Linked DNA regions of Homo sapiens. The protein of the gene in region 3 purifies or fractionates together with the protein of the main gene of each other region. This does not show direct contact. Each region holds a gene or a part of one and is shown on either strand. Other genes may lie near its edges.

The links.
Region 1: the proteins of TAFA2 (region 3) and LARGE1 purify together in Homo sapiens (affinity purification with mass spectrometry; one large-scale study listed by BioGRID and IntAct). This does not show direct contact.
Region 2: the proteins of TAFA2 (region 3) and TCTN2 purify together in Homo sapiens (affinity purification with mass spectrometry; one large-scale study listed by BioGRID and IntAct). This does not show direct contact.

The regions. Positions count from the first base shown.
Region 1 is NC_000022.11:33,644,352-33,648,007, forward strand, and holds part of LARGE1 (xylosyl- and glucuronyltransferase LARGE1), read right to left. Parts: intron 1-3,656. UniProt on the Homo sapiens protein: Bifunctional glycosyltransferase with both alpha-1,3-xylosyltransferase and beta-1,3-glucuronyltransferase activities involved in the maturation of alpha-dystroglycan (DAG1) by glycosylation leading to DAG1 binding to laminin G-like domain-containing extracellular proteins with high affinity.
Region 2 is NC_000012.12:123,705,350-123,708,899, reverse strand, and holds the end of TCTN2 (tectonic-2 isoform 1 precursor), read right to left. Parts: intron 2,175-3,550; coding exon 2,049-2,174; intron 1,916-2,048; coding exon 1,827-1,915; intron 1,297-1,826; coding exon 1,187-1,296; 3' UTR 501-1,186; downstream 1-500.
Region 3 is NC_000012.12:62,186,118-62,189,773, forward strand, and holds part of TAFA2 (chemokine-like protein TAFA-2 precursor), read right to left. Parts: intron 1-3,656. UniProt on the Homo sapiens protein: Has a role as neurotrophic factor involved in neuronal survival and neurobiological functions.

The DNA.
Region 1 (3,656 bases), on a different chromosome or scaffold from region 3:
AATTCAACACCTCTTCATGCTAAAAACACTCAATAAACTAGGTTTTGATGGAACAAATCTCAAAATAACAAGAGCTATTTATGACAAACCCACAGCCAATATCATACTGAATGGGCAAAAGCTGGAAGCATTCCCTTTGAAAACTGGCACAAGACAAGGATGCCCTCTCTCATCACTCCTATTTAACATAGTGTTGGAAGTTCTGGCCAGGGCAATCAAGCAAGAGAAAGAATTAAAGGGTATTCAAACAGGAAGTAAGGAAGTGAAATTCTCTCTGTTTGCAGATGACATGATTATATATTTAGAAAACCCCATCTTCTCAGCCCAAAACTCCTTAAGCTGATAAGCAACTTCAGCAAAATCTCAGGATACAAAACCAAGGTGAAAAAATCACAAGCACTCCTATACACCAATAACAGACAAACAGAGAGCCAAATCATGAGTGAACTCCCATTCACAATTGCTACAAAGAACATAAAATACTGAGGAATACAACTTATAAGGGTTATGAAGGACCTCTTCAAGAACTACAAACCACTGCTCAAGGAAATAAGAGAGGACCCAAACAAATGGAAAAACATTCCATGCTCATGGATAGGAAAATCAATATTGTGAAAGTGGCCATACTGCCCGAAGTAATTTATATATTCAATGCTATTCCCATCAAGCTACCATTGACTTTCTTCAAAGAATTAGAAAAAACTACTTTAAATTTCATATGGAACCAAAAAAGAGCCCATCTAGCCAAGACAATCTTAAGCAAAAAGAACAAAGCTGGAGGCATTATGCTACCTGACTTCAAACTATACTACAAGGCTACAGTAACCAAAGCAGCATGGTACTCCTACAAGGCTACAGTAACCAAAACAGCATGGTACTGGTACCAAAACAGATATATAGACCAATGAAACAGAACAGAGGCCGCAGAAATTAACCACACATTTACAACTATCTGATCTTTGACAAACCTGACAAAAACAAGAAATAGGGAAAGGATTTCCTATTTAATAAATGGTGCTGGAAAAACTGGCTAGCCATATGCAGAAAACTGAAACTGGACCCCTTCCTTACACCTTATACAAAAATTAACTCAAGATGGATTAAAGACTTAAACATAAGACCTAAAACCATAAAAACCCTAGAAGAAAACCTAGGCAATACCATTCAGGATATAGTCATGGGCAAAGACTTCATGACTGAAACACCAAAAGCAGTGGCAACAAAAGCCAAAATTGACAAATGGGATCTAATTAAACTAAAGAGCTTCTGCACAGCAAAAGAAACTATCATCAGAGTAAACAGGCAACCTACAGAATGGGAGAAAATTTTTGCAACCTATCCATCTGACAAAGGGCTAATATCCAGAATCTACAAGGAACTTAAACAAATTAACAAGAAAAAACAAATGACCCCATCAAAAAGTGGCGAAGGTATGAAGAGACACTTCTCAAAAGAAGACACTTATACGGCCAACAAACATATGAAGAAAAGCTCAGCATCACTGGTCATCAAAGAAATGCAAATCAAAACCACAATGAGATACCATCTCATGCCAGTTGGAATGGCGATCATTAAAAAGTCAGGAAATAACAGATGCTGGAAAGGATGTGGAGAAATAGGAACGCTTTTACACTGTTGGTGGGGATGTAAATAAGTTCAATCATTGTGGAAGACAATGTGGTGATTCCTCAAGGATCTAGAACCAGAAATACCATTTGACCCAGCAATCTACTGGGTATATACCCAAAGGATTATAAATCATTCTGCCATAAAGACACACACACGTATGTTAACTGCAGTGCTATTCACAATAGCAAAGACTAGGAACCAACCCAAATGCCCATCAATGATAGACTGGATAAAGAAAATGTGGCACATATACACCATGGAATACTATGCGGCCATAAAAAAGAATGAGTTCATGTCCTTTGTGGGGACATGAATGAAGCTGGAAAACAGCATTCTCAGCAAACTAACACAGGAACAGAAAACCAAACACCACATGTTCTCTCTCGTAAGTGGGAGTTGAACAATGAGAAAGCATGGACACAGGGAGGGGAACATCACACACTGGGACCTGTTGAGGGGCGGGGCAAGGGGAGGGAGAGCACTAGGACAAATACCTAATATATGTGGGGCATAAAACCTAGATGATGGTTGATAGGTACTGTAAACCAACCATGGCACATGTATACCTATGTAACAAACCTGCACATTCTGCACATGTACTCCAGAATTTAAAGTTTAAAAAAAAAAAAGTCAACGAGTTCAAGATCTGAATTCCTATATGACTGTTTTATGTTTCAAGGAACACAGGGATAAAGAAAATTCATCAATCCTATGTGCTGCTCCTTAAAGCAGTGGTTTCCTTTTTTTGTTTTGTTTTGTTTTTTTGAGACGGAGTCTCGCTCTATTGCCCAGGCTGGAGTGCAATGGCATGACCTCAGCTCACTGCAACCTCCGCCTCCCAGGTTCAAACGATTCTCCTGCCTCAGCCTCCCAAGTAGCTGGGATTTCAGGCACCCTCCACCACGCCCAGCTATTTTTTTGTATTTTTAGTAGAAACAGGGTTTCACCATGTTGGCCAGGCTGGTCTGAAACTCCTGAACTCAGGTGATCCACCCGCCTTGGCCTGCCAAAGTGCTGGGATTATAGGCGTGAGCCACTGTGTCCAGCCTAAAGCAGTGGTTTCCAAACAATCTCTCCTATCTTAGAATCATCTGGATATATTCTTTTGTTAAATATCTGTATTCTCAGGGGCTACTCCCAGAGATTCTTAGTCAGTAGGTCTGGGGTAGGTCTCATGGATACACATTTTTGATATGTAATTCTAACACACAACCAAGTTTGAGAACCACCCATGTGACAGACATGGTTCACTGTGACCACAGTAACAGAACTCCAGAATGTTCCAGAAAAACATGGCTTCCTTGAGTAAAATCTATCTGTTCCAGGCTCTCTTGGACCTAGGTGGCAGCTAAGGGTATCCCTGTAACTAAGTTGTGTCAATAGGATCTAAAAGGATCTGAAGTGTGAAATTTCCAAGATACGTTCTTTAAGGAAAGTGGTATGTCCCACCTTAACACTTCTTTCCTGCCAGCTGGAATGTGGACAACATAGCTAAAGCTCTGACAATCATTATGGGTCATGAGATGACCTTGGGAATGTCAATCAAGCAGGCTGGGGTGAAAGATAAAGAAATCCCAATACTGCCATCCCTACACTGATGGCCTCCAGACATCTTAAACACAATGAGAAACAAGATGCAAATCTTGCTTAAGCCAGTGTTAGTTGGGATTTTTGATAACCTGCAGTGAAATCTAAGACTGATACAACTAACTACATTAGAATTTCCCTCAAGTTCCAATATCCATTGTCACCACTGAAATAGTAAAAGGCAGGAACTTGATTTTTTTTTTCTTTTGAGACGGAGTTTTGCACTGTCACCCAGGCTGGAGTGCAGTGGCACCATCTCGGCTCACTGCAATCTCCACTTCCTGGGTTTAAACGATTCTCCTGCCTCAGCCTCCCAAGTAGCTGGGACTACAGATGCGCGCCACCACATCCGGCTGATTTTTGCTATTTTTAGTAGAGACGGGGTTTCACCATGTTGGCCGGGATGGTCTCAATCTGTTGACCCTGTGATCCACCCACCT
Region 2 (3,550 bases), about 62 Mb from region 3:
ACAGTGAGCTATAATCGTGCCACTGCACTCCAGCCTGGGCAACAGAGGGAGAACCTGTCTCCAAAAAACAAATAAATAAATAATGAATTAGGGGCCTGCTTCTGCTAAAGGCAACCTCTGGCATGTATTTTAGGGCTTACATGTGCCCCTGGTTTTGTTTTACTTTTCTCTTATTATTTTCCTCCCGCAGCCCCCATATCTTTCCCCATCAGTGATTTTGTGTTTTTGTATTACATGCATTTTTAAGGATTTCTTAATCCTTTCTACGGAATATGGGAAACATCAATCAACACGAATGTATTAAAAACTAAAGAAAAGACTGATTCTCTCTGGTATAAATAAAACTCCTATGACTTTAACTAATTTGTGATAAGCTAAAATTTCTAACATTTTTGAGTTCTTCTCATGCATTTTACTCAGTTCAGGCCAGCGATGAGAATATTCATTCTGCATTGGATAGCTACATATATGAATTAAAGTCACAGGGCACTTAATAAAAATTTTCTACAAAAATAAGACATTTCATTTATTAAAATTTTATAGAGAAGCATACAAGACTACAACAAATCACTGAAGTCAAGGTCTAAAGTCTTTGAGAAGTCAGATGGACCGGACGCAGTGGCTCACGTCTGTGATCCCAGCACTTTGGGAGGCCGAGGTGGGCAGATCATCTGAGCTCAGGAGTTACAGACCACCCTGGGCAACAAGGCGAAACCCCGTCTTTACCAAAAATACAGCCAGGCATGGTGGAGCATCTGTGGTCCCAGCTACACCAGAGGCTGAGGTGGGAGGATTGCTTGGGAGGCAGAGATTGCAGTGAGCCGAGATTGTGCACTGCACTCCAGCCTGGGTGACAGAGACCCCGCCTCAAAAAAAAAAAAAAAAAAAAAAAGGCCGGGTGCGGTGGCTCATGCCTGTAATCTCAGCACTTTGGGAGGCCAAGATGGGCGGATCATGAGGTCAGGAGTTCGAGAGCAGCCTGGCCAATACGGTGGAACCCTGTCTCTACTAAAAATACAAAATTAGCCGGGCGTGGTGGTGCATGCCTGTAATCCCAGTTCTCCGGAGGCTGAGGCAGGAGAATCGCTTGAACCCAAGAGGAGGAGGTTGTGGTGAGCCGAGATCACTTCAGCCTGGGCAACAAGAGCAAAACTCCATCTCAAAAAAATAAAAGCCAGGTGGTTGTCTAACTATAGGCTTTGCATATTCTGGTCCAGGGGTTGCTGAGGAACAAGGCCAATGTGAGGAACAACAGCAACAGTAAGCCCTTAGCAACACACTGAGAATGCAGCTCCCCTGAAAAACAATGGACAAAATTCAACAGCAGTATTTCTTAACTCTTTTGATAACAGTGTAGGTATAGGCTGGGTGTGGTGGCTCACTCCTGTAATCCTAACACTTTGGGAGGCCAAGGAGGGCGGATCACTTGAGGCCAGTTCGAGACCAGCCTGGCCAGCACAGTGAAACCCCGTCTCTACTAAAAATACAAAAATAGCCAGGCATATTGGTGCTGTAATCCCAGCTACTCCAAAGGCTGAGGCACGAGAGTTGTCTGAACCCAGGAGGCAATGGTTGCAGTGAGCTGAGATTGTGCCACTGCACTCCAGCCAGGGTGTCAGAGCAAGACTCTCTAAAAAAAAAAACAGTGTAGGTAGAAATAAACTAAGCCAAAACAGTAATGGTGATCACTTCCAAGTGGCAATATTATCCGTACTTTTTTTTAAGTTTCTATATGTTTTATGCTTTCTGTAACATTTAGACATCATTTAAAAAATTTTTTTAAATTGACATAACATAATTGGTCATAGAAATCTGTTTCACCCTACCTTGATAATACTGAGTCCATGGATATAGAAGCTGCGGCCAACACACCTCATTTCTGTTGCAGTCATACTCTGTATAATTGATCTGGAATCTAGAAAACATTTTAGAGGGTTACAAAAACTACAAGTGAGAAGTATCAGAACTTGATTAAAGGAATAAACTTCCAATTTTCAAATATATATTTTTCTGCTTCCTAATGTCAACTAGGTGAGCAACTGGAGTACCTTGTCAGGGGGTGGGGTAACTGTGCAGGAATTTTAATAAACTGGACGGATGCACTGATAGGGAGAAGGTCGGCCTTGTGCTCACAGGTAAGCCCACACTGGTACTGCCAGTTCACTGAGGAGAACCTAGGAGGGAAAGATCACATGGTCAGCATAGCCACCATTCAGTTCTATTCCACCAAGAACAGCAGGTAACGGATGCAATCACAATATAACCTGAGGTTCTCCTAAGAAGTTTCGCATTCTACCTGGGCTGTTTTTTCTCAGTATTTGTCCATGGTCTTTGACCATTTCCACAGACAGATCCAAAGAGAAGAGAAACTCCTAATAACCCCTCATGGGCCTGTCGCCCAGCAACATCTGCCAGTCTTGTTGTCAGTCTCACTCCTCTCCAGCCAGTGCATTGTATACAGGTGCTATCAAAGGTACCTTTGTTCATCACCTGTTTTTCTCAAACAATATAATAATAAAAGCAGCAGCTAGCCACTTATTGAGGGCTTTCCACGTTCGAGGCACAGAGATAACTTGCTTGCAACACACCATCTCATGTTATCCTCAGAAGAGTACTGCGGAGGTGGTAACTGCACTCCCATTTTCCCTTGCAGAGCCACCACTCTCCATTTCCAGTTCAGTGGAGCAGAAGGAATTGGCCCTAATCCAGAGGTGCACCCATCACCTGAGCCTAGCCAATAAGAGCTGTCCATTGCCCCAGTCATAGGGATTGGTTCAGAAAGGAGCACATGACCTAAACTGAACCAATAAAAGTCTGCCCAGATCTATTTTGAGAAAGAGGAGGGGCCGGGCACGGTGACTCATGCCTGTAATCCCAGCACTTTGGGAGGCTGAGGCAGGCAGATCACCTCAGGTTGGGAGTTCAAGACCAGCCTGACCAACATGGAGAAACCCCATCTCTACTAAAAATACAAAATTAGCCAGGCGAGGTGCCACATGCTTGTAACCTCAGCTACTTAGGAGGCTGAGGCAGGAGAATCGCTTGAACCCGGTTGGTGGAGGTTGCAGTGAGCCAAGATGGCACCACTGCACTCCAGCCTGGGCAACAAGAGCAAAACTCCGTCTCAAAAAAAAAAAAAAGAAAGAAAGAAAGGAAAGAGGAGGAAAGGGGCTTTCTCCCCACTGGACTTGCTGCAGTGACATAAGCCTGGATTGCTGGTGCTGATCTTTGCCATCTCTTGAGGAGAACCTCCCTGAGAATGAAGCCAACCCAAAGGAAGAGGAGCTGAGATACGAAAACAAAAAGATCCCTGACCACACTGGAACCATGAACCATGAACTAGCTGTATGTGGATTACTCTGAACTTGAACCAATAAACTCCCCTTTTTGCTTAAGTCAGTATGAACTGGGCGCCTGTCACTTAAAACCGATGGAGGCAGGCTGGGCGCGGTGGCTCATGCCTGTAATCCCAGCACTTTGGGAGGCCGAGGCGGGCGGATCATGAGGTCAGGAGATTGAGACCATCCTGGCCAACAGGGTGAAACCCTGT
Region 3 (3,656 bases):
GCATAATCCACCCAAAGAAAGTCAAAGTGTTTTTCTTTATTATTAAACTCAACAGAAAGTTCCATGTGCAGCTACAGGAGGCCATAGGCAATTAACACTGAAAATTGAAAGGTTCAGAATGTTTGCATGACCTTTAAAGGGCAACACCGTTGCCCATTCACATGCATGCAATTATGCAGTGACTAGTTTGTAGCAGCAAATATATATATATTTATTTATATTTAGTAAAACAAACCTTGCATTCATCAAAAACTACTTTGAACTTTCCAGGCTTCATGTAGAGAGTTAGCTTTACATAGTACAGGAGACTTGTTCAGCTGGTTCTCTTCATTTTGTCAAATTACTAAATTCAGCCTATCACCGTAATTGCTAGAATGCAACATTATCACATTATTGAATCTCTCTGTAGAGTTTCCAAAATCTACTGCATAAAGCTACGTTTAAAAGAAGCAATATAAATATAAATTTAATTGAATGACTATGTTTGTACTATTGCTGGGGAAAGGGAGATGTAACTTTGCTAACTAGCCATTCAGGGGAAATCATAAAACAATTACAGCTACTATGGAGTAACTTAGGAGATTGAAGGAAGTGATTAAAAGGACTTTATCTAATATAAACATATAAGCTCTGATTCCTTAGTTATATATCTCATACTCCACATGAACCACTGAACAAAATAGAGTATTCTTCTTACAGCTTAAATATTTACTCTTCATCTGATTTCAAGTAAACTAGAAACCTTATGTTTTCCAATGGCAATACCAATCAATTGCCTAAGTATTCCACTGACTAGCTTGCCTAATATTACAGCACAGGATAAAATCCAACATATCCATGTGGTATACACATTAGAAACAGGTGGATTTTGGAAAACTAACATAAATTTGGAGTATGATATCAATATATTTCTGGCAATTTTGTAGATACCATTTTAAACGAGAATAGTACACGCCAATGTAATACATAGTTTGTGCATTGACTATGGAGGTGTATATTCAATAAAGACAGCAGCACACAGATATGTTCAGCGTTCAAAATGTGTCAAAATTCCCAGTTGTAGTGTCAATAAAAACATCCACAGTGTCTCCGCATTGAGGACAAAAATGATTTTTTTTGCATTTGTAGCCTAGTAAATAAAAGTATCTCCAAAAGAAAAATTCATGAGAAAAATAGAATGTATTAACAATGGCTCAAACAGTAAAACTCAGTTATAAATGACGTTGTCACACTATGCATACAGTTGTACTGCAAGTCAAATCATGGAAAATAGTGGAAAAACTATGCACCTATAAAGGCAGACATTCTACAAAGTTGTTCTGATCACCCTGTTACGTAAAACCAGTATTTTACATGGGTGTCATTTAAAGCATATGTATGTATGTATGTATGTATGCATGTGCATATATGTATAGATACAGAGATTATATTGTTAGGTACTACAGAGAAATATATTTAAATACTTTCACATTCCAATATGTCTAACTTATCCTCTTAAAATTTCTGTAAGATTAAGAAGACAAGAATTGTTTATTTCATTGACGACACTGCACTGAATGAATCACTGCACTGAATGAACAAAATCAGACCTTCTAAAAATTACCCAATAAGTCAGTGGCCAATGACAATTAAAAAACAGAAACTAACTTCTATGTCTCTGTTTGCTGGGCTCACCTGTCAATCTCCTGTTTCAGATTGTGCTCCGAACCTAAAGTAAAACTGTTTTCTAAAGACTAATGGTAACTCAGTGTGAAATTATTTCTTCTCTTTCGATGGAATAATTAAATAGTTCAATATGCTCAAAGTAGTTCAAAATAAAGTTAACCAAAGAATTTTCAAATAAGATGGTAAATTCACCATATTACATGGCATTATAAAATCAGTGGTCCAAAAGCAGGCTATATCATGTGAAATTTTGTGTAAGCATGTGGCCAGATATGAAGTTGATGCAGCTGGTTTGGCCTTCATATCTAGCAGCAGGCTGTGTTAATGCATTTCTTCTCTTTGTTTCGATGAAGCCCTACTAATAACAGGTTGATGAATTGCATTTGCAAATGTCAGGCATAGATCAAAGGGGATGACGGCTTGGATGATTATTTTACCCCAAGTTGTGATTTTTCACCAAGAAAACAAAACTGCATTGCACAGTAAGGTTCCTTATTTTTACTTGAATCTTCAATGAACAAAACAGCTGCAGAAAAATGTGACTTAATGAGGCATCCCTAATAAAATACTGCAGAAGTAAAAGCAGGGGCACTGAACTGTTTGCACTCTGGTTGTTTCATCTTTTCAAATATATTAGAAATAACTGATGACACTTTGGAACATTCCTTGTTTGGGACATGCATTAGAGAGTTCGTCAGTAAATGTTCATCAGTTTGCAGTGATTGCTGAACTTTGGTGCAATCTGACAGGACCTTTTCTTAGGGGCCAAGATAAGAAATGACTGAGAAATCCTGAAGATACATATCTTACCCTTCCTGTATAAGGTAATCCATAACTTGCAATTAGTGATAAATCATCCTTAAATGTGTATTTTAACACAAAAATACATTTAAAAATGATCATCAAAATACTACATTGAAGACACTGGATCCAGGACTACTAACATTTTCTGATAAAATATAAAATAATTTTTAAATTTTTCTACCACCCTCTAAATTTTATCATTTTATAAATTTTTAAATAGGAAAACTGGCCATATCTAAAAACATATTTTTACAGCCATGTCATCACATTTTATAACTTGGTGGTTAGTAAATACCATATTGCCATCTCTAAGCAATATGTAATCTATTTTTACATAAATCCATAGGCAACTCAATGAATCTTCATTCTCCAATTTGTCATTGTTAAAATAGCTAATATTTTTCTAATGCAATATCACATATACTTAGAAGCCTTAATTCCCCTTTAGCAGAACCTGTAGCATTATATAGGCATTTGCTTTAATGTCAAAAATTCTGGGTTCATCTTTAAGAGACACATATCGTAGCACTCTACATAAATATGAATTCAAGCATCCTAAAGTACTAAATTTTTTAAAGGCAAGAAAAGAATCAAGATTTTCACATAAAAAAAAAAATGCCTAATCTGAATAAAACAACACACTAAAGCCATTTGCCTCTTAAAAGATTCCCTGTGCCTAAGTATTCAGTTGGCAGTGACATCAACCTCACGGACTTTTAGTATCTATAAATAATACAATCCAACTTTTTTATTGAAAATTAGGAAAATGAAAATATTTATAAGCTCCAGTGTGGTAACTGATGGCCTTTAAGTGGCTACTGGTGGCTTTAAAAATTAAGATTCTAAAAAGAAAGGTCAACTCAAACAATTGACTCAGGATGAGATTCAAAACAAAATAAAGTAAGGAAAGAGACAAACATGTCTGATCTTTTATTTGAAATATAGGATGTTAGGTGCCAATTTTGATATTGCAAATGATTAATCAGTCTGAGAGTACAAATGCAAACATGGAAAGGCTGGGGTAAGTACAAATAATCTTAATCTTCTGATTTTTAAAGCTTTAGAAGTGTTTTTAATCTCCTTTCCTGGTTATTTTGGTTTAGCACTTTACACAAAAATCTTAAATTAATTGTTCATTTGTCTTAACTTATATGCCTAATAAAGCAGTTTAGGAGTGTTAATTGACA